2 separate regions of the Homo sapiens genome follow, and region 1 is linked to region 2. Evidence: fine-mapped expression QTL. Tissue or cell type: whole blood. Region 2 holds a variant in brackets; the other region holds the start of a gene. All regions are shown on one strand. Distances are between the middles of the regions.

What was found. PIP is the estimated chance that this variant, and not a neighbour inherited with it, causes the effect.
Region 1: RWDD3 starts here. The variant in region 2 is fine-mapped to the expression of RWDD3 in whole blood (TOPMed, PIP above 0.99). The same link has a PIP of 0.9 or more in blood mononuclear cells, lung and monocytes.

What each region holds. Positions count from the first base shown.
Region 1 is chr1:95,229,106-95,239,922 of GRCh38, reverse strand. RWDD3 (RWD domain containing 3) reads right to left here and starts at 5,713. Exons shown (of 4, transcript NM_015485.5): 1 at 5,608-5,713. The coding sequence starts at 5,692. It overlaps TLCD4-RWDD3 (TLCD4-RWDD3 readthrough), which reads right to left. Exons shown (of 8, transcript NM_001199691.1): 7 at 8,929-9,021. RWDD3-DT (RWDD3 divergent transcript) reads left to right here and starts at 5,941. Exons shown (of 4, transcript NR_125949.1): 1 at 5,941-6,223. RefSeq lists silencers at 5,253-5,432, 5,643-5,972.
Region 2 is chr1:95,265,917-95,276,733 of GRCh38, reverse strand. No RefSeq gene overlaps it. Among named protein-coding and RNA genes, the nearest start is that of RWDD3, 37 kb to the right of the region's middle. The variant A/G (reference allele first, on the strand shown) is at 4,829.

The DNA of each region.
Region 1 (10,817 bases), 37 kb after region 2:
TATAAACACCTACCGGGTCCTCTCTGGTGCAGGGAACCACAGGAAAGAAACATGTTGGTAGTCCAGGGGGAAAGTCTTGAAAAGCTACTGAGCCAGCCATGTCAGTCCTTACCAATTTTCATTTTTCTCTGTGTTATTTTCTGGTCCTAGTCAGCAAACAGAATAGCAATGGGTGAAACTCCTGACTTTCACCTTAGAAAACTGTGACCGTCATACTAGTTATATGTTCGGAAGAAAACTGCCTTAGTTCTTTTAAGAATTGGAAAGGATTAGCATTCTTCCTAATTGGTCTTGGTAAATCCCCCTGCCCACCCACACATACACTGTAGCTGCAAAATAAGATTATACAAAATGATACTGTCATCTCTACAAGAAACTGAAAAGCCCAATAACATACTCCATTCTTCTGGTATTTAATGTGGCAATAAAATTACATACTTTTAAAAACTCATTTTCTCCCAAAAACTCTAGAAGTATGTATTGTACTCTTCCATATCTCATCTGCTTGACATTGTACAAGCAATTAAACTGGCTCCTTTCTGCCTCAGAATTTTTCATATGACACATGCACTGTAAGTCTGATTTTTTGTTTTCTTTTTTTGCCATAATAAAAAAGAAAACAAAGTTGCCCCTATCTGCTTTAAGGTTATTAACAGCTTAGAAACAGTGATTAGCAGAAAAATAATTATGCTCTAAATCTAATACTAATCTCTGCCCCTCCTTAGCCCCCCAGAACCTTAGTTAATAAGCTTAATTCACAAACTGATCATTCTCAACAAACATCTATGCCCTAGAAAACTTAAGGCTTGCCCCAGAAAACTAAAATCTCCATAAGTCCAAGGGTGTTTTCATGTATTCTAAAGACCCTACCAAAAGGGTCTTGCCCTCTTGTTCAAGTTGATACAAATTGACTACTTGTTGTTTCTAACCAAATCATTCTGTCTTATAGTAAGTGTATCATTTTCATACCTAAAACACAAACTGAAACAGGTTTCAAACCTTATGCTTCCTTACAAACATCAGAAAGTAAGCTCCTAAACACATTCCAAACAGAAATTCAAACTAGAGAAACTTAAACTTTTAGAACTCCAAATTCACACTAATGCTATTTTTAAGGTTTCATTCTACTTAATAAAATACAACACACAACAGAAACTCTATAAATGCAGTCAAATAACAGAAGACATTTTTAAAAAAAGGTAAAATTTAAGAGAATGGGTTTTTCAGGATTCACTAAGAGCCCATTAAGAAATTGTTTACATACCATATACATCTGACCTTCCCTACACTTGTGTTTTTTTTCTTTGCAATTGTTATATATCCTCAAGATACAACTTTGAAGAAAACCACCAAGAAACCTTCAGCACCCTCTCATACTTGGTAAGACAAGACTGTCTCCTCTTGCTCCCAGGCAGCTCCCAGGCAAGCATACACCAGTGCTTGTTTTATGCTTCAGTTGGATTTTTACATAAGTTTCAATGTAGCTTCAGAAGAAAAAAAAAAAAACTAAAAATAAATGAAGCTAAAAGTAGCAATCTCATCGGTTTTATAGAAGTCAGCTCAATACTGACAATCAGCATAAAACCGAGCTGAGCAGATTTAGAGGGGTCAATGTGTGACAGTCATGATTCATTTTATAAGAAGGCCCAAACTAATTTGAACATTAGTGTTGCTAAAATACAAAAATTCACTCTGCAGCTTCTGTGAAAACCTATTACATGATATTGGGTTCTCCCATCTTACAACTTTTTTATCTGTAAGATTCTTTCCAGAAGCACAACTCCCACATATAACGAACATTGACTATGGCCACATAATCTGTGTCACTCAATTTCCTCATCAGGAAAATGGTGATACAATACCAATCTCACGCCTCTCATAGATCCACACATACATGCACAAACACTCCCCTTTGGGATTGTTCTGAACATAAGTTGGCTCACACTCATATCTTTTCTCTGGGTGCTCATTATCGCTCTTTCTGCACAAGTATTTCCTTGCTTTCCAAGAACTATTTTCCTGATGCAACAGCCCCATCTCTCTATTAAGGAGCATGATGCAGTGCAAAGGCCCATACACCTGGAGCCTGGTGGTTATTTAACCAGTCTGAGTATCAGTTATCTTCTCTGTGAAGTAAGACCAATAGTACCCCTCATCAAGTAAGATGCATTTCAAGTATCACGTACATGGCAGGTCACCCCATCAAATCTGGCACCTGGACTGACTACAATGCATACAGAAAAACAGAATATCCCTAATGTGGTCTATCCACAGCCCTCCCTTGTAGATGGGAGTGTAGGGACTTACTTAATTTGCACCCCTAAGAGATGGTTATGCCTCTTACTAGAAGCTTACTATAACCATTGTAAAGAGATCAAAAGGCAGATAAAATCCCCTGAAATTCTCAGCATAAAATTAGTCCAGCTAAATGGAATCCAATTATTTAGCTTCTTCAATCTTACGGCCTTAATAGTTGATCCTTGGGTTAGCAGTCTGAGTCTTGCTGGGTTATCTTGTTACCAGGAATGCAATTCCTCTGCAACATTCTCCTGATTCCAGTGGCAAAAGGGAGAACCTTATTTGGGGGAGGCCAGAAAAGAACTAGTGTTTAGAGTGTTCTGGTATCAAGTGTGTATCCTCCAACCCAAACTGACAGTGATGGTGAGTGGTAGCCAGCAGTCTGCTGCATGTTTACTGTGGTCTGTTAAAGAAGTCCTTACTTTGTAAAAAGATGTTACGAAAATCATGGGAAAAAAAAAAAAGGCCTTTACCTTACCCCCTTAATTCCCACTTGTGAACATCAAACATCCCCATTTCAATCACTGAATTATTCTACCTCTCAGCAACAAAATGTCCTAAGTTGTTACACTGAATTCTTTTATAATTCAATTACTTATTGATGCCAGAACATGGAATTAAACTAATTAGGAGGCATGGCTTGAAAGTCATGCTCAATTTAACAGCAGATAAAGGGTTCACAGTGTTCTCAAGATTAAGAAACTGTTTTCTTTCTATGCTTACATTTTTGGGTTTTCTCTGACCCTTCAGCAGTGTTTTATGCTCAGCTGTGTACTAATGACCCAGACCATTACCAGTTCTTTAAGGTGTGATGGGAAATTGCAGGTTCATTTTTCCAGGATATTCCCAACTGAGCCATAATAAAGGAATTTAGGAAAACTGATGATCTCTTCAAATAGCTGCCTCAGGCAGAAGTAATTATCAATAAAGAGAACAGTGGAGACAGAGAGGGAGATGGTGAAGAATTATCCAATCAGAAGAGGGATGACAAGAAAACACTAAAAGTGAGTAAACCCCTTCATATGGATTTTAAACAATTGTTTCAAAAGATACAAGTCAGGCTGGGCACTAAAAAGAAAGCAACTCCATTACACTAATAGGTGCATAGTGCCTGGAACATAACAGTGCCCAATGAGTGGATGTGAGTGGATGAATGCAAGAAGGAATAAATGGAAGTCAACTCCCTGTCCTTCAGTGAATAACACACCCAATGGATATCATGAAGGATCTTAATCTTAAATGGTTTTCTCACAACATCCAGCCCATTTTTAGACTACTTTTTTTTTTTTTTTCTGAGACAGAGTTTCACTCTTGTTACCCAGGCTGCAGTGCAATGAATGGTGAGATCTTGGCTCACTGCAACCTCCGCCTCCCGGGTTCAAGTGATTCTCCTGCCTCAGCCTCCCGAGTAGCAAGGATCACAGGCGTGTGCCACCATGCCCAGCTAATTTTTGTATTTTTAGTAGAGATGGGGTTTCGCCATGTTGGCCAGGCTGGTCTTGAACTCCTGACCTCAGGTGATCTGCCCGCCTCGGCCTCCCAAAGTGCTGGGATTACAGGCATGAGCCACGCGCCAGGCCTAGACTACCTTCTTAAAGGTTAACCAATTTATGGTCAGAAAGCCAATTTTAATGGTAGCTACAATATAACATTAGAACGATAAATCTCATGCCCCAAACATGTACATAATGTATCTGAAAGCTAAGTGAAAACTGAGTCACTTTCTCATACATGGCAGTGTTTTTTCTTTTTTTTTTATTCAATAGAAGCCACATACAGGGACAGTAAGTTTCACCTATCATCAAAAAATAGTCAAAAGAACCTCTCTACACTGTAAGCTCCTAGAGGCCATGGGTAGCGGTGTCTCTGAAACCCTGACAAAGTCTGTAGGCAGCAGGGATTCAATAAATGTGGGCTAAATGACTAATAAAGCCCTCAAGAGCTTGTTTAAAAAAAAGTATCAGAAGGCCAGGCACCTGTGGCTCACGCCTGTAATCCCAGCACCTTGGGAGGCCGAGACGCGCGGATCACGAGGTCAGGAGATTGAGACCAGCCTGGCCAACATGGTGAAACCCCGTCTCTACTAAAAATACAAAAAATTAGCCAGTCATGGTGGCAGGCGCCTGTAGTGCCAGCTACTCGGGAGGCTGAGGCAGGAGAATGGTGTGAACCCAGGAGGTGGAGCTTGCAGTGAGCCGAGATCGCGCCACTGCACTCCAGCCTGGGGGACAGAACAAGACTCTGTCTCAAAAAAAAAAAAAAAAAAAAAAAAAGGCCGGGCGCAGTGGCTCACGCCTGTAATCCCAGCACTTTCGGAGGCCGAGGCGGGCGGACCACGAGGTCCGGAGATCGAGACCATCCTGGCTAACACGGTGAAACCCTGTCTCTACTAAAAAAAAAAATACAAAAAATTAGCCGGGCGTGGTGGTGGGCGCCTGTAGTCCCAGCTACTCGGGAGGCTGAGGCAGGAGAATGGCGTGAACCCGGGAGGCGGAGGTTGCAGTGACCCGAGATCGCGCCACTGCACTCCAGCCTAGGCGACAAAGCAAGACTCCGTCTTAAAAAATAAAAAATAAATAAAATAAAATAAATAAAATTCAGCCAGGCATGGTGGCACGCGCCTGTGATCCCAGCTACTCGGGAGGCGGAGGCTGCAGTGAGTCCAGATGGATCCACTGCACTCCAGCCAGGGCAACAAGAGAGACTCCACCTAAAAAAAAAAAAGTATCAGAAAAGCAATCAACTTGGAAATAGAATGCAGATAAAGTTGAGGTTGAGCACTGGATAAATGAAAAAGTTCAGTCAACAAACATTTACCTACTACCTACCAGGTGCCTGGAGTCATTACCAAACAGACCCTGCCCTCCTGCAACTTAAGACCTACAAATACCCGTGTAGAGTTAGAACCGGGGAGTGCTCTCGGGGGGGCCTAGGGCATAGTGCTTAGGAAGGACACAGAACAACGAGGGGGCGTCAGCACAGGCTTCTTTATAGGGTGAGATCTGAGGGGTGGGAGGCTGGGGGAGGGCCTGGGGGTGCGCACGCAGGGGCCCCCGGCTCCGGGAGCGGGACCGGCGGCAGAGGCCCCAGTGGGCCGCGCCGCTCTCTTAGTGTTTCTGGGGTCGCCTCACACTCCCGCCCGCTGCGACACCACTCCGGCCTCCGGGCGTGTCATTCCATCATTCAACTAACCCGGTCCCCATACGTGGGCCCAGGCGGGGTGCCCAGGCTCCGTGGTGGGGAGGAGACGCAAAGCGAACGCGGGTGGCCCCTGAGGGCGCCCTGTCCCTCCCGCGCGCGGGTAGTCACCTGAGCGGCTCAGCACCTCCCACTCGTGGGGCCTGCAGAAAATCGCGGCCAGGACCGAGAGCTCCTCCTGCACAGGCTCCGCCATGGCTGTGGGCCCCACCGCCTCAGCGCTTCCCCTTCCGCTGCCGCAGCCGCCGCCTCCACCGGCCAGGAGCAGCACTGCCCGCGGCCACCCGGGGGCGCCCCGCGCCTCCGCAACCGGGCGGGACGGGGGCGGGGCGAGACGGAGCTGGGGCGAAGCGAAACGGGACGTGGGCGAGGCGAGTCCGGGCGAGGGTCAGGGCAGACGGGGCGGGCGGGGCCCTTAGAAGTTCCGCCCAGAAGCTCCTGCTCAGTAACTACAGACGCGAAGCTCAGCCTCTCGGTTTGGGAATTTTCTTGGAGGCCGAGGCCCTGCGCCTCTGTCTGCACCCAAGGCGACCGCCCAGCTTACCCCCGGCTCTTCTGAGCACAGGGAGGCCTCCCAGCAAAGCCTGAACCCTCTAAGTTTAGCTGCAGGCTTCGAACCCCGACCGTCCCCGCCGAGCCTTGGGCTGCTGAGGTGGGGATGAACTGGGCGAAAGACACTTGGGAGTTAGGAAGAAACAAACAAGCAGGGAAGTGACCAGGAGACAAGGTGAGACTTTGCCCGGCTCAGGTCTGAACTGAGTGTTGGAGATAACCACAGTTAACAAAATAAACAAAATTATTCGCCCCCGTGGAGCTGTTAGCAACCCTGGTGCCTGGGAAGCCTGGAAGAGGCTCGGGTTAGTAACAACCTCCAGGATGCCCTCCGAACTGGTACTGGCGCCGGGACTCTAGACAAGGTCCAGATTCCCGGGCCCTTCCCCTTACGGGTGCAAAAAGGGAGGGTCAGGACCTGCCAGTCCTGGCTTCAGGATGTTGACTGGACGGACCTGGACTCATGGGAACTGTGCGCCAAAGTCCTGGGAGCAAAGTGTCATAACGCTCCTCGTTTGTCTCTTGCCTTCACAGGAGACAGCCCTGCTGCAAGCGGCCAGTGGGAATCCTTGGCCTTTGGGGGTATGATCCAAGAATGTAAACGCTAGCTTTTCAGTGTTTTCGATTTCGTGATATTCAATGCATACAATACAATGTGACTCTTGAAGCTTAATAATAAAATTATCATTCTTGAGCCCAGCACCTAAATTTTAAAATGTGAGCAATACCAATAGGGTAACAGAATAAGCAATCCATTCTGTTTTGACTATAGTGAACAAGATTACAAGACTTATCTGCAGTTAGGTCTGTCTCTCGGATGTTTGCCTGGTCTTTTTGCTGTTCAAATAACAGTTTAAAATTTGGCAGTCCCCACAAGCAGCTGGTCTTGCTCATGGAGTTCTCACAACTTTTGTTTGTATGAGAAATCACATTTCATGAGATAAATCTGGGAATTTAGGTTGTTAGGCAGTGACTCCAGTCACTGACCTACGGAAGTCAGAACAAAGTTGGCTGATTTTAAAACCCTGCATCCATTCACCATTACCATTCCCGCTGTTGGTAAAAAAGGAATCTGATAAAGGAAAAGATACTGGCTTCCCGGAACAGAAAGGAAACCTAACAAGATGGACTGCAGGGAAAATGCTTTTCAGAAGATGCCATGGGATTTCAGTGACCCCGAGTAATTAGGAGCACATAATTGGGAAGATGAAGGCTTATTTAAATGCAGTTATCTCTGATATGGCCAATTGGCTTGAAGAAAAAAAAAACTCCTTTATTTCCAAAATAACAGACGTTCCAGCAGTTCAGTAGGTTCATAATTAACTGCTAAAGAGATTGAACAAAAGAATACGTTTTTAATTTAAAATATTACTAAGTTATTTTAATTCGAAATCCAGTGTTACTATGAAAAGTCAAACAATTTGGTTTTTGACTTATTTATTGAAAATAATCTATAAAATAGGCTGGGCGCAGTGGCTCATGCCTGTAAGCCCAGCACTTTGGGAGGCCGAGGCGGGTGGATCACCTGAGGTCAGGAGTTCGGGACCAGCCTGACCAACATGGTGAAATGCTGTCTCTACTAAAAATACAAAATTTAGCTGGGCGTGGTGGCAAGCACCTATCATCCCAGCTACTCAGGAGGCTGAGGCAGGAGAATCGCTTGAACCCGGGAGGCGGAGGTTGCAGTGAGCCGAGATCGCACCTTTGCACCACTCCAGCCTAGGCAACCAAGCGAGACTCCGTCTCAAGAGCAAAAAAAAATCTATAAAATATTCAAATAGTTTTTACTTATTTTTAATTTTCCAAATTCACTATAAGTGAGATGAGTGAAATAACATGAAGAGCAAAATTACAGCTGTAGGAAGGATTAGGAGGCAGTTGCTAAAGCCTGCTGTCAGCAATAGGTCCATGAAAATTGATTAAAGAGTACATCAATCTATGATTTAAAATTTTCTTGTCAATAGGTTTCTTCTTTGCTCTTCCTTTCTCAGTTGATTTCTTAATCTGCTTTTCATACCTCATTTAGCATGTTTAAATAAAAAAGAAGTCAATGTGAATGTCTTTTAAATTGACACTATCCTAAGGCACTGAAGTCCCATGAATAAGTTTCTGCACTCTGACATTTGGAAATAATCATCTCAGAGACTGCATAATGTCAGCTTGATATTTCTTGCACTGTGAAAATATCAGCTACATGTCAAATCTCTAAAGTCTACCTTAATGTAATAAGTTTCCTCGTATTCACAGGCTACTGAAAATTCAAAATATTTAAATGTAGGATGAATGTCTACAGTTAGAGCATTGTCTACCTCCATCTCTCTCTCTCCCTTCTCACCCTTACACACACAAAGGTGTATGATTTGCTAGAACAATTATTATTTTTACAAGTATTATTTTTACAAGCAAATTTTCTAAATAGTTGCTTCCCCAAGACCATAAGGGGAAAAGGTTTAAAACCTTTCACCTTCAGTTAAAACCAATAACCCAGAAGATAGTTCTTTTCATTTTGGGGGGAAACAGTTCTACTCACTTTCTCATGAGTAGTATGTAGACTTACTCAACTCTGAGTTTGAAATCTTAAGTCAAAACTCACGTGAGCATAGAAATGAGAATGCACAATTTCAAGTGTATTAGGAGAGTTAAGTGTTATGTCAAAAAAAGGTGAGGATCCTAATACTGGAGTGGAGTGTGATAAGAAAAAATATCAAATCAAAACTGAGAAAGGTAAAAGTACTTTCATGAACCACCAAAACAACCAAAAGAGGGCTTAAATGCCAACTTCCTAAATAAATCTGAACTCCAAGAACCTGTGCTACTGGTTCTGTCTAAAGAGTTTCTGCATTCGCATACTCATTTCACAAAATGTTCTTAGACACTCACTGATTGTTGGCCGGGCTCTGCAGGCTGAGTGTGGAGAGGTGGAGAGTTAGAGATGAAAACAAGTCCATGTTTCCAGTGACTACAGCCTTTGGTCTAGACAAGTAAACACAATATGAAACAATTACAAATTCTTTCACCAAGCTGAGCATACAAGAATTATCACATTTCCTTAGCGGTGTAAAGTTCAATATTATGATGTAGGTTAAAGTAACAGAGTAGGAGTAGCATATACCTCCCACAATTTCCGAGGGGAGAAATAATTTGGAAATGCTCAGGAACACAGTAGCCCTCCAAAAGTACACAAAGTCTGGGATGTTAACTAGTCATAGTTGTTTTGTTTTGTTACAGTATACAGATCGTAAATTTATTTTTCATAATGATAAAAGCAAATAAAATCTATGAGAATTTGCCACTGGCTCTGTGATCATACCCTTGTGTGGAAAGATCTGCCTCCATCATGTCCAAGTAATCTGCACTCCCTCCAAAATATCGGCTGCACTCTGCCATGCTTGATTTCTATGCATGAATGGTATCAAGACAGTTCCAGCTTGCTTTATGGGAACCCATCCATATGGCCCAAATCCACCAATATAAAAGCTCAATGCCTTCTCAATGTTATAAAAACAAGTCACTGGTATCATTGGGGTTTTTGAGTTTTTCTAGTTAAAATAGTATCCAATATTTAATTTTGGTGACTATTATAAATGGATTCTTCTTATTCATTATATTTTCCCACTGTATTACTAGTGTAGCCAGTTTTTATTATCTAAAAGAGGGCTGAGGATTGTGTGACTTAAATATCCTTTTCTCCAAACTCATAAAGGGACTATCCATGAGTAAACTCTGCCATTTTAGCAAAAGTGATTGAAAATGGAAAGACAGATGTATATCAAGGAACCACAGGTAAAACTGGGAAAATTAGACTTGGATTTCCTTTTTAAAAATTATAGTGGAAGGAGGGAAGAAGGTAGGAAGGGAAAGAGAAAGAGAAAAAAAAAGAGGTAGGAGGAAGAGGGGAAGGGGGAAAAGGAGGAGAAATAGGGAAAGAAAAGATTGATTTTTATGAGGCAAAAGAAGTCATGAGTTAGGAATTTGTCTTTATGTAAGGAAAAAGTAAAAAAGATTGACTTGCCTGCTTCTTAAATAAAGAAGTCTGAAACTTGATTCAATAACAATATGAGGTCTGAAATTTGATTCAAAATAATATAGGAGGGAGGAAGAGGCTATAGTGTGAGTGGGGCAGAAGCTGATCATAGGTTAATGATTGGTGGGGTGGAGTGATGGGTACATGAAGATTCAGTATTTCATTCCCTCTACATTTGTGTATTTCATATTCTTTTTAATAAATGTTAATTTTTAAAATGTGTTCAGTAGATAATACATCAGGATATTTGAGTTTTGCCTAATGCTCAATTAAGGGAAAAAGGACAAAAATAAAGCAGGAAAATAGGGAAGAAAAAGGAAAACCGGGGCCAAATGGAGTGAATAGAGTTGGTGGATGATATTAAGAGACAGAAGATGACAGGTTCTAAAGTGATGTGTTTAACAGATGTATGATTTACGATTAGTTCAGGTGAAAAAAAGCACAGAGCCTAACAGTGCAGTGGCTTTAACAAGATACAATTGGTTTTCTCTTAAACGTTCAAGTGTGGAGGTAGGCAGAGCTTTGGTGCTCCCCGGTGTCAGGATATAAGTTCCATCTATTTTGTGGCTCTGCTCTGCACAGATTTGATTCCCATGGTCATGCTGTGGTTCAGGGTGGCTTTTGGAGCTCCGATCACGAGTCAGAAGAATGGGATTCAGTCCAATTTCATTGACTAGGACTCAGTCCCCATGACTGCTGCCAGTTAAAAGGGAGCTTGAAAATGTTGGTTTTAATCTGACAGGCC
Region 2 (10,817 bases):
CACCTGGCTAATTTTTGTTCTTTTAGTGGAGATGGGATTTCACCATGTTGGCCAGGCTGGTCTCCAACCCCTGACCTCTAGTGATCCACCCGCCTCGGCCTCCCGAAGTGCTGGAATTACAGGCGTGGGCCACCGGGCGCCCAGCTGACTGTTACATTTTTTAGTTGTTGAAAAAACTAAAAAAAAAATACTTTGTGACACATGAAAATTATATGAAATTCAAGTTTCAGTGTTCATAAATAGCATTTATTGGAACACAGTCATGCTTAGTTGTTTAAATATTTTTTTATACCTGCTTTAATACTGCAGTCGCAGAGTGAAGTAGTTGTGACAGAGATCATGTGGACCACAGTAACTAAAATATTTACTACCTGGTCTTTTGCAGAAAGTTTGCCAACACCTGGTCTAAATAAAAAACACATCATCTTTCAAATACATCTCACTGTCTCTCCAGGTACTGCCTAAAAATCATACATCAGATGCTACCATTGAGAGATCTCTGGGGGCACTAGCAAGAGTATTTCAGTGCAAAAAAGATAAAAGGGTTGAGCAAATTCAACTTGTAAGAATGAAGAGACTTAGATGATAATGTCTGCTCAGGACAAGGTAGAAGGAAACAGGGTTATTGGTTCTTACATGACATATGGACTGACCATTCAGTTACATGAAATGTTATCAAGTTGAATACCTGAACTCAGTATTACACAACATTCACAAAACTAATGAGTCAGGAAAACTTTTCTAAGAAAAGAAAGTTTAAAAGTAAACCCTACCTTACATTCTAAATTTATTCAATTCAAAAGCAACAAATAAAAGAGATAGAAGTAATGGCTTATGCAAATTCTTATAATGGAAAAAAGAAATTTGAATTGGTTTGTAAATTTTAGAAATAGTCTGCTTTTTCACTACACACAAAAAATATGAACTTCCAGATTCAAAGCAATCCTAGAGGTTTTTTTAATGTATCCCCTGTTTTATTATACCATTACTACCTTAAAACATCCTTGGAAATTATCTACTATTGTCTCAAAAATCTCTTTAAGACTGAACAATCAAATGTGTTCACACAATCTTTTCTTATAACCTTAATACCTAAGCAATGTTTTTGATATAATCAAAACATTAAGAACAATTTTTCATCAGACAGACTAGTAAATTCATGACTTCCTTTTATTTTATTACCGATTTATTGTGTAGCTTAGATGAATATGGATTTTAGTAGGTTTTAATTGACACATAACATATTTATGGGGTACATAGTGATGTTTTGATACATACAATTAGAGTGATCGATTTAGGGTAATTAGTGTATCTATCATCTCAAACATTTATTATTTCTTTGTGTTGGGAACATTCAATATTCTCCTTCTAGCTATTTGAAACTATACATTATTATTAATAATAGTTATTCTACAGTGGTATAGAATACTAGAACTTATTCCTCCTATCTAGCTATAATTTTGAATCCTTTAATACATCTCTCCCTATTCCTCCCTTTCCCCTCCCCTTCCAAACCACTAGTATCTTTCATTCTACTTTTTACTTCTATGAGATCTACTTTTTTTTTAATCTTCTACATATGTGTGAAGGCATGCAGTGTTGAATGTTCTGTTTCTGGCTTATTTCACTTAACAAAATGTCCTCCAGTTCCATCCATGTTTCCATGAATGACAGGATTTTATTTTTTTATGGCTGAATAGTATTTCATTGTGTATATATACCACATTTTCTTTACCCATTCATGGACACCTAGGTTGATTCCATATCTTGGCTATTATAAATAGTGCTGCAATAAACATGGGGGTGCAGATGTCTCTTCAATATACTGATTTCCTTTCCTTTGAATAAATGCCCAGTAGCAGGATTGCTGGATCATATGGTACTTCTGTTTGTGTTTTTTTGAGGAACCCCCATACTGTTCTCCATAGTAGCTTCCCTAGTTTACATTCCCACCAACAGTGTGTAAGAGTTCCCTTTCTCTGTATCCTCACCAGCATTTAATTTTTGTTTTTTTGATAATAGACATCCAAACCATGGTGAGATATCTTACTGTTGTTTTTTATTTGCATGTCTCTGATTATTAGTGATGTTGAGCATCCTTTTATACCTTTGTTGTCTGTTCGTATTTCTTCTTTTGAGAAATGTCTGTTCAGATCCTTTGCCCACTTTTTAATCAGATTTTTTTTGCCTTTTTGCTATTGAGATGTTTGAGTTCCTTGTATATTCTGGATATAAATCTCCTGTCAGATGAACAGTTTGCAAATATTTTCTCCCATTCTGTAGGTTGTCTTTTCACTCTATTGGTTGTTTCCTTTGCTGTGCAAAAGTTTTTTGATTTGACATAATCCCATTTGCTTATTTTTGCTTTTGCTCTCTGTGCTTTTGAGGTCTCATTCATAATAAGTCTGTTCCCAAGCCAATGTCCTGAAGTGTTTCCCCTATGTTTTCTTCTAGTAATTTTATAGTTTTGGGTCTTACATTTAGATCTTTGCCCCTTTTACAGTTGATTTTTGTATAGAATGAGAGGCAGGGGTCTAGTTTCCTTCTTCTGTATATGGATATCCAGTTTCCCTAGCATCATTTATTAAGGAGATTGCTCTTTCCACAATAAGTGTTCTTGGCATCTTTGTCAAAAATCAGTTGACTGTAAATACGTGGATTAGTTTATGGGTTCTCTATTTTGTTCCATTGGTCTATGTGTCTGTTATTGTGCCAGTACCATGCTGTTTTTGTTACTACAGCATTGTATTATATTTCAAAGCCTGGTAATGTGATGTCTTTAGCTTCGTTTTTTTTGCTTAGGATTGTTTTGGCTCTTTGGGATTTTTTTTGTGTGTGTGGTTCTGCACACATTTTAGGTTTTATTTTTCTATGTCTGTGAAGAATGTCATTGGTATTTTGATAGGGATTGCATTGAATCTGCAGATTGCTTTGATTGGTATGGTCTTTTTAACAATATTTTTAATTCTTCTGATACGTGATTATAGGATGTCTTCCATTTGTTTATACCCTCTTCAATTTCTTTCACCCATGTTTTGTAGTTTTCCTTGTAGACGTCTTTCACCTCCTTGGTTAAATTTATTCCTAAGAATTTTATTTCATTTGTAGCTACTGTAAATAGGATTAATTTCTTGGTTTCTTTTTCAGATTTTTCACTCTTGGCATATAGAAATGTTACTAATTTTTGTATGTTGATTTTGTATCTGGCAACTTTACTGAATTTGTTTATTAGTTCAAAATTTGCATGGTAGAATCTTTAGGTTTTTCTATATATAAGATCACATCATCTGCAAATAGGGACAATTTGACTTCCTCTTTTCCAAACTGGATGCCCTTTATTTCTTTCTCTTGCCTAATTGCTCAAGGTAGAACTGCAGTACTATATTGAATAAGAATGGTAGAGCAGGTATCTTTGTCTTATTCCAGTTCTTAGAGAAAAAGCTTTCAGCTTTTTTTCATTCAGTAAGATGTTAGCTGCAGGTTTCTCATACATGGCATTTATTATGTTGAGGTACTTTATACTTAATTTACTGAGAGTTTTAATCATGAAGGGAGGTTTAATTTTCTCAAATGCTTTTTCTTCAACACTTAAGACAATTATATAATTATATGGTCTTTTGACCTTCATTCTACTGTTGTGATCCATGACATTTTGTTGATTTGCCTGTGTTGCACTATCCTTGCATTCCTGGAATAAATTCCACTTGATCATAGTGTGTTATCTTCTTGATGTGTTGTTGGATTTGCTTTGCTAGTATTTTCTTGAGAATTATTGCATCTGTATTCATCAGGGATGTTATTAGCCTGTAGTTCTCTCTCTGTCTCTCTCTCTCTCTCTCTTTCTCTCTCTCTCTCTCTCTCTCTCTCTGTTATGTCCATATATGACTTTTGCATCAGGGTTATGCTGGCCTCACAGAATGAGTTATCAAAAAGAATTCCCTTTGCTTTAATTTTTTTGAATAGTTTGAAAGAATTGTTATTCCTTTTTCTTTAAAGGTTTGATAGAATATAGTAGTGAAGCCATTCAGTCCTGAACTTTTCTTTGTTAGGAGACTTTTTATTATTGATTCACTCTTGTTATATGTTTTTAGTCTGTTCAGGTTTTCTATATCTTGATTCAATCTTTTTAGGTTGTCTGTGTCCAGTAATTTATTTATTTTCTTTGTGTTTTCAAATTTATTGGCATATAGTTGTTCATAGTACTCTCTAGTGATTTTTTACTTATGTGGTATTCATTGTGATGTCTCCTTTTTCATCTATGATTTTATTTGTTTGGGTCTTCTCTCTTGTTTTTCTTAGTCTGTCAATTTTTTATCATTTTCAAAGAAGTATTTTTATTCGTTGATTTTTTGTGTGTATTTTTAGTCTCAATTTCCTTTATTTGTGCTCTAATCTTTATTATTTCTTTCCATCTACTAATTTTGGGTTTAGTTTATTTTTGCTTTTCTAGTTCCTTCAGATGCATCTTTACGGTGTTTTAAATATATCTAGTTTTTATGTAGGCATTTATTACTATAAACTTGCCTCTTAATACTGCTTTTCTAAACTTGTACAAAGTTAATAATTTTTTTAAATACTGCTTTTGCTGTGTCTCAAATGTTTTGGTATGTTATATTTCTATTTTTATTTGTTTCAAGAAATTTTGTAGATTTTATTCTTAATTTCTTTCTTCACTCATTGGTTATTCAAGAGTATGTTGATTAATTGTCATGTATTTGTATATTTTCAAAAGTTCTTCCTATTACTGATGTCTAGTATTATTCTGTCATGGTTCAAATAAGATACTTGACGTGATTTCAATTCTTAAAAAATTTTTGAGACTTGCTTT[A/G]TGTCCTAACATATGGTCAGTCCTGGAGAATGTCCCACATGCTGATGAAAAAAATGTATATTCTGCATCAGTTGGGTGAAATGTTCTATAAATGTCTGTTAGGTCTATTTGGTCTGTGGCATGATTTAAATCCAAAGTTTCTTTGTTGATTTTCTGTCTAGATGATCTGTCCAATGCTGAGAGTGGGGTGTTGAAGTCCCCAGCTATTATTGTATTTCAGTCTGTCTCTTTCTTTGGATCTAATAATATTTGCTTTATATATCTGAGTGCTCTGATGTTTTGTGCATATACATTTACAGTTGTAATATTCTCTTGCTGAATTAATCAGTTTATTATCATATAATGTCCATCTTTGACTGTATAGCTTTTGACTTGGAGTCTGTTTTGTCTGATATATATATAGCTATTCCTGCTCATTTTTGGTTTCTAATTGCATGGTGTATCTTTTTCCATCCCTTCTCTTTTGGTGTATGTGTGTTTTTGCTGGTGAGATGAGTTTTTTGTAGGCAGCATATAGTTGGGTCTTAGGGGTTTTTTTTTAATCCATTTAGCCAATCTATATATTTTAAATAAGAAATTTAATCCATTTACATTCAAGGTTATGCTTAAGATGTACATAAATTTTATCTAAGCTTTAAGTTATTTATTTATGAATCTAAGATAATATGGAATATTTTAAGATTTTGACTAGAAACTTTATAAATTCCCTTATAGTTTCTGACACACTTCAAGTAAATACAAGGCATTCTCCTCATGATGTCTGCTATGTACTGAATGTTTGTGTCTCTCCCAAATTCATGTTGAAACTTAATCTCCATTGTGTAGTCTAACAGGTGGGGTCTTTTGGGGACTGATTAAAGGTTTTGCCCTTATTAATGGTATTAATACTATTATAAAAGAGGCTTCAGAGAGCTGCCTTTTTTTTTTCAATTCCTTCTACCATGTGAGGATACCGCATTTGTCCCTTCTAGAAAATGCATCAACAAAGCACCATCTGTGAAACAGAAAGCAAGCCCTCACCAGGCACCAAATATGCCAGCCCCTTAATCTTGGGATTCCCAGCCTCCAAAACTGTAAGAAATAAACTTCTATTACTTATAAATTTCCTAGTTAAGATATTTTATTATAACATTAGGAACAAACTAAGATGGTATCACTGACTCTATTTCTCAAAGTTAAAAATATGAGGTCCCCCAAAAGAACTAAGGAGTGAGCCACTGGGCTACAGGAAAAGGTGTATTAGCTTGAAGACAGAATGTTAGCACTAAGCACCACTTGTTAGCTTCATCATCTTGAGCAAGTCACTTAATCTTTTAGCTTCTGCTTTCTCTATTATCTAAGCACTTGTGCATATGTGTATTAAAGCCCTCTGTAGATGGTGAAGTGTTATAAGAGATGTAAGTTTGTATTATTGTCCTCAATAATTTTCCTTAGAGGCTCAAAGGAAACTGATTTAGAAACACAATACATTGCATATATAGAGCCAGATCATTTTTCAGCAAGTTTCCAATAATACCTACAGTTAAAAAATTATAGCATATATGTCACATGCAGCGTTACAAGTAAGAATTAAATAGGAAAATGTTCATGGGTTGAGGGAAATAGAGTACATATTGCTCTAACTCACTAATATTTTCTTTGTCTCATTGGGCTTGATAAAACCACTACTCTTGATTGGAGATTGCATACTACCTGGCAGGTTAACCTTTCCATACTACAGGATTTGAGTTCAAAAGCTGATGACAAAACCATCATGGGTCTAAAAACTCTTCTCAGTTTTACTTGGTAAGGCTGCTGAAGTTGCTATGCCTGTTAATTAACCCCTGAATCCCATCAAGGTAATTGAAGTATAAACTTAAGATGAAGACAGATAAAGTGAAGAATTTCAGAGCGTGCATCTTCCTGCCCTATGCCCTGTTCCTATATTGGTTCAACAAAAAGCAGATTCCATAGCATTAGTCTAGATCAACTAAAAGGAGTAAAGTATGCACTTTGAAATCAAACAAAAACATAACACCTCAGACAATATTGTCAATTATACATTTTACACATGTCTGATCTTACAGAAGTTTCTTGTTCTCCTTGTGTGTATTTTTCATATAGGAAAAGGATAAACAGAATTCACTGTTGTCTTTTCTTATTTAGTTAAATATTGTAGTATTAGACCACTGATAAGATATCAACTACTGTTATTTAGAAATTATTTTAGTTATAGACAATGATCTGTTTGGCTTTGTTGAAAATCAGCTCCAGGATCATCCTTCTTATATTTCCATTAACTATGAAATTAAATAGAGGGGGCAATTTTTAAAAAGAGAAATATTGCTTTTAGCCTGAAACTCTAAGTGTTGAATTTCTGCCTGCAGTGAGTTTTTTCAATTAAATTATAAACCATGGGTAATAGAGATTTATAATAGGAGAGCTGATACAATCTTAACTACAGGGAAACCATCCGACTCGCTCTATGCAGTATATGGATGGATTATTTGCATTAAATTATCTTTAGAAAATGCAAACAAAACAAAGAAATGTAAAGCTTGTCACATTATTAGCATAAAATTAAAGTCCTTGAATGCATAATTGTTCCATACCCAAAGCATTAATGGATTTTATTCTTAGAGTTCAAAGACCTCCTAATTAATATGCAAAATGGCCTCATTTTAAGCGAAAATTTTCTTCTTACTCAGAAAAGAGCCAGTTCTTTGCTGGAGGAAAATACTATGAAGTTTAAAAAACACTAACTAATATTGATATAAAAGCCCACACATCATATTGCCAAAAACAATAACCACTAGAAGCTATTAGAATATTTATAGCTCTTCAGCCTATTATGAGTATAAATTGTATGATTAGCCAAATAATACCTAGCTTAAGAAGATTTAAGTTCACAAACTCTAAAAAGAAAACACAGTCTTTCTCTGGAAATGTTTACTTACTTGAATAATAATTTTTTAAACTATTAAAAGGAAAGTAAATTTAATAGAAAGGGAAATTCTGGACCTACTAGTATAAATTTAAATTACATGACTTCAAATCTAATTTTACAAAGCAATTACCCTCTAATTTACATTGCTCTAGTTGCCAAGATTTGTAACAGGAAAAAAAATTTAAATTGCACGATTTTTTTAAAAGTGTGCAAAAAAATGGATGATTCTCCAGAATTCTAATTTTCTCTTATATTTCTAAATAAATTTTAGAATACTATATCCTTAAAAGTGATTTACTAGGTTTTTCTTAAATTTCTTTCCAATGTAGCTAGTACTAAATGACTGATTTTATTCTGAGTATTTATGTATTTTTAAACAATTTATGCTTTTTAGAGTTTGACACATTACAAATCAAACTACAACCACCACAATATTGTCATGTTTGAGAAAATACAGTAATTTCTTTCAACCAAGAAATAATGTTCCTCCAAAAGAGATATGAGGTCTTAAAATATAGTGCAGTCCCAAAGTGTCTCACTCATTTGAACAATGGCACAGAAATCTATAGGACTCAATCTCCCATTGTAATTACAGGTTCACTGCCAAGACTAGGAATAATATTCCCCTAACATGTAATATTCATATGGCAAATATGAATATTAAGTAGTTAAGAATCTACTATGTGCCAGGGAGTGTGCTGGGTGCTCATCATTATGATTATCCCATTGGGGCCACATATTTATATTTCACAATTTTATTTATGCACATTCATATTCACATTTGTATTTGCCAACTATAACCTGCTGTTAGAATGTTAGAATCCTTAATCAGAATGTTCGTGTACAAATATATGCCAAACACCTTAGAAAAAAGTTATTCTTTTAAAAAACTTTTCTAGAGTTAATAATGAAAGAAAAAACACCAATTTATTAATTTTTTCAAGTCCTTAACATGTAATCAATACTAAGTAAGCAATTGAGAATGAATGAATGGTTAGATGACAATATTAAACCATATTCAGGTAAGATTCCCATTCCACTCTAAATTAGCTAAAATCAGAGAAGTTTAAATTTACTTTAAAATTGAAGCAATATAGGTTACATATTTAAAACTACTTCAAATGTAAAAGTGGTTCTACTTATTAAAAGGTCTTGTCAATAGAAGATTCTGCTATTACCTCATTAAATAAGTATGTACAGGTAAAAAAAATGACATTTATCATTTGTTTCAAAAAATCATGTCCTAAAAAAGACTATAAAATTTGTTCAACTCAAGAAAGGGCCCAGTAACCCAGAATAACGGCTGAGATTTAAAGTGTTTTTCTACTTTTCCACAGGGAAAAAAAAAAAAAAAACTAGCCCTATGCAGACAACGGTTGAAATCAGCCCTGTGTAAAATGCTATAAAGAATGTGTAAAAAAATTACATTCTTTGATTATTTGTTGTATTTTAAAGTCTTAAGTGGGACATAACAAATTATTTCATTTATAAAGCACTCTACAATTTACCAAGTGTTTTCCTACAAGTCCCTTTCTTTTAAGAGTCTTAGTCTATCTCAAGGATGAGGCTCCCTTGAGAAATTGCTACCCACAGATCACTATCTGTGACTGTTATACTGTATTTCTGGCTAGTTAAACCATGTCTATAACATAGAATTCAATTCTGGATGCCGCATTTTAAGAGGGACATTGACTAATTAGAATGTAATGAAAGGCAAATGTCCAGGTGAGTGGGAGAAGCTATAATTTTTGATAAATTATTCAAGCAACTTGGGAGGTGAAGAATAAGAAAAGGCATAATAACTACTTTCAAATATTTGAAGAGCTGTCATACAGAGAAGAGTATACTAATTCTGTGTTGCTCCAGAGGCCAGAACTAGAATAAAAAGCCATAGGTTAAGAAATGTAGATTTTGATTGAATGCAAGAAATAACTTTTTGTCTACTGTGCTGTCCAGTAACAACAGCTGCTTCATGAGGGTGATACTAATCTCTGGAGTTTTTCAAGCAGGAAGTGGATGGCTATCACAGTTACAATTTTTAACAATTACTGCACTGGTTGGAAAGTTGAACCAGAAATCGCTAAGCTTCTTTCCAGGTTTCAAATTCTATTTGTCTATATAAAATGAAATGCATAAATGTAGCTCCAAAGGAGATTTTTATTATATGCTCATTTATCTGACAGCAAAATATTTAGATTTTTTAAAGTAAATATAAGATTTTGTGACACATGGAATGCTTACTCCCTAACAAAAAATCATCTGGTTATTTGAAACTCCTAATATGTATGAAACAAGAAGTATAGCAAGTTTCAGGCACCAGGTACTATAAGTTGTATTCATACATAAATAATCGCAATGTTAAGAAAATAGCTTTTATTTGTGAAGAAACTCTATGAATTCACTGTGAGTATAAGTGTAAGGATAATTTTACAATTCAAGAATAAAGGAAATTGGCCTGGAGCAGTGGCTCATGCCTGTAATCCCAGCACTTTGGGAGGCTGAGGCAGGTGGATCACTTAAGGTCAGGAGTTCAAGACCATCCTGACCAACATGGTGAAACTCCGTCTCTACTAAAAATACAAAATTAGCTGGGCGTGGTGGCGCATGCTTTTAGTTCCAGCTACTCCAGAGGCTGAGGCATGAGAATCACTTGAACCTAGAAGGTGGAGGTTGCAGTGAGCCAAGATCACACCACAGCACTCCAGCCTGGGTGACAGAGGGAGACTCTGTCCCAAAAAAAAAAAAAAGAATGAAGAAAATCATCTCACCTCTCTAAAGTGCCAGAACAGAATGGAGCAGATATTTTCCCTAAAAGGTTATAACTATTGGACAACAATTGTTCATTGGTTCCTTGAGTTCTCTTTGCATTATACATAGGACTAAAGAGCTAATATAATTATCTCCCAAGTATTGCTATCAGATATATGAGTGGCCTTGGTTAAGTAACTTACCCCAGTAGCCCCACTTTTTCAAAAAAGCAGATTAGATGATCTTTTTAGTTCTTTCTAGTTCTCAGGTCTATGACTTCTACACATACAACACCCCACTTATGCAGTCAAGCAC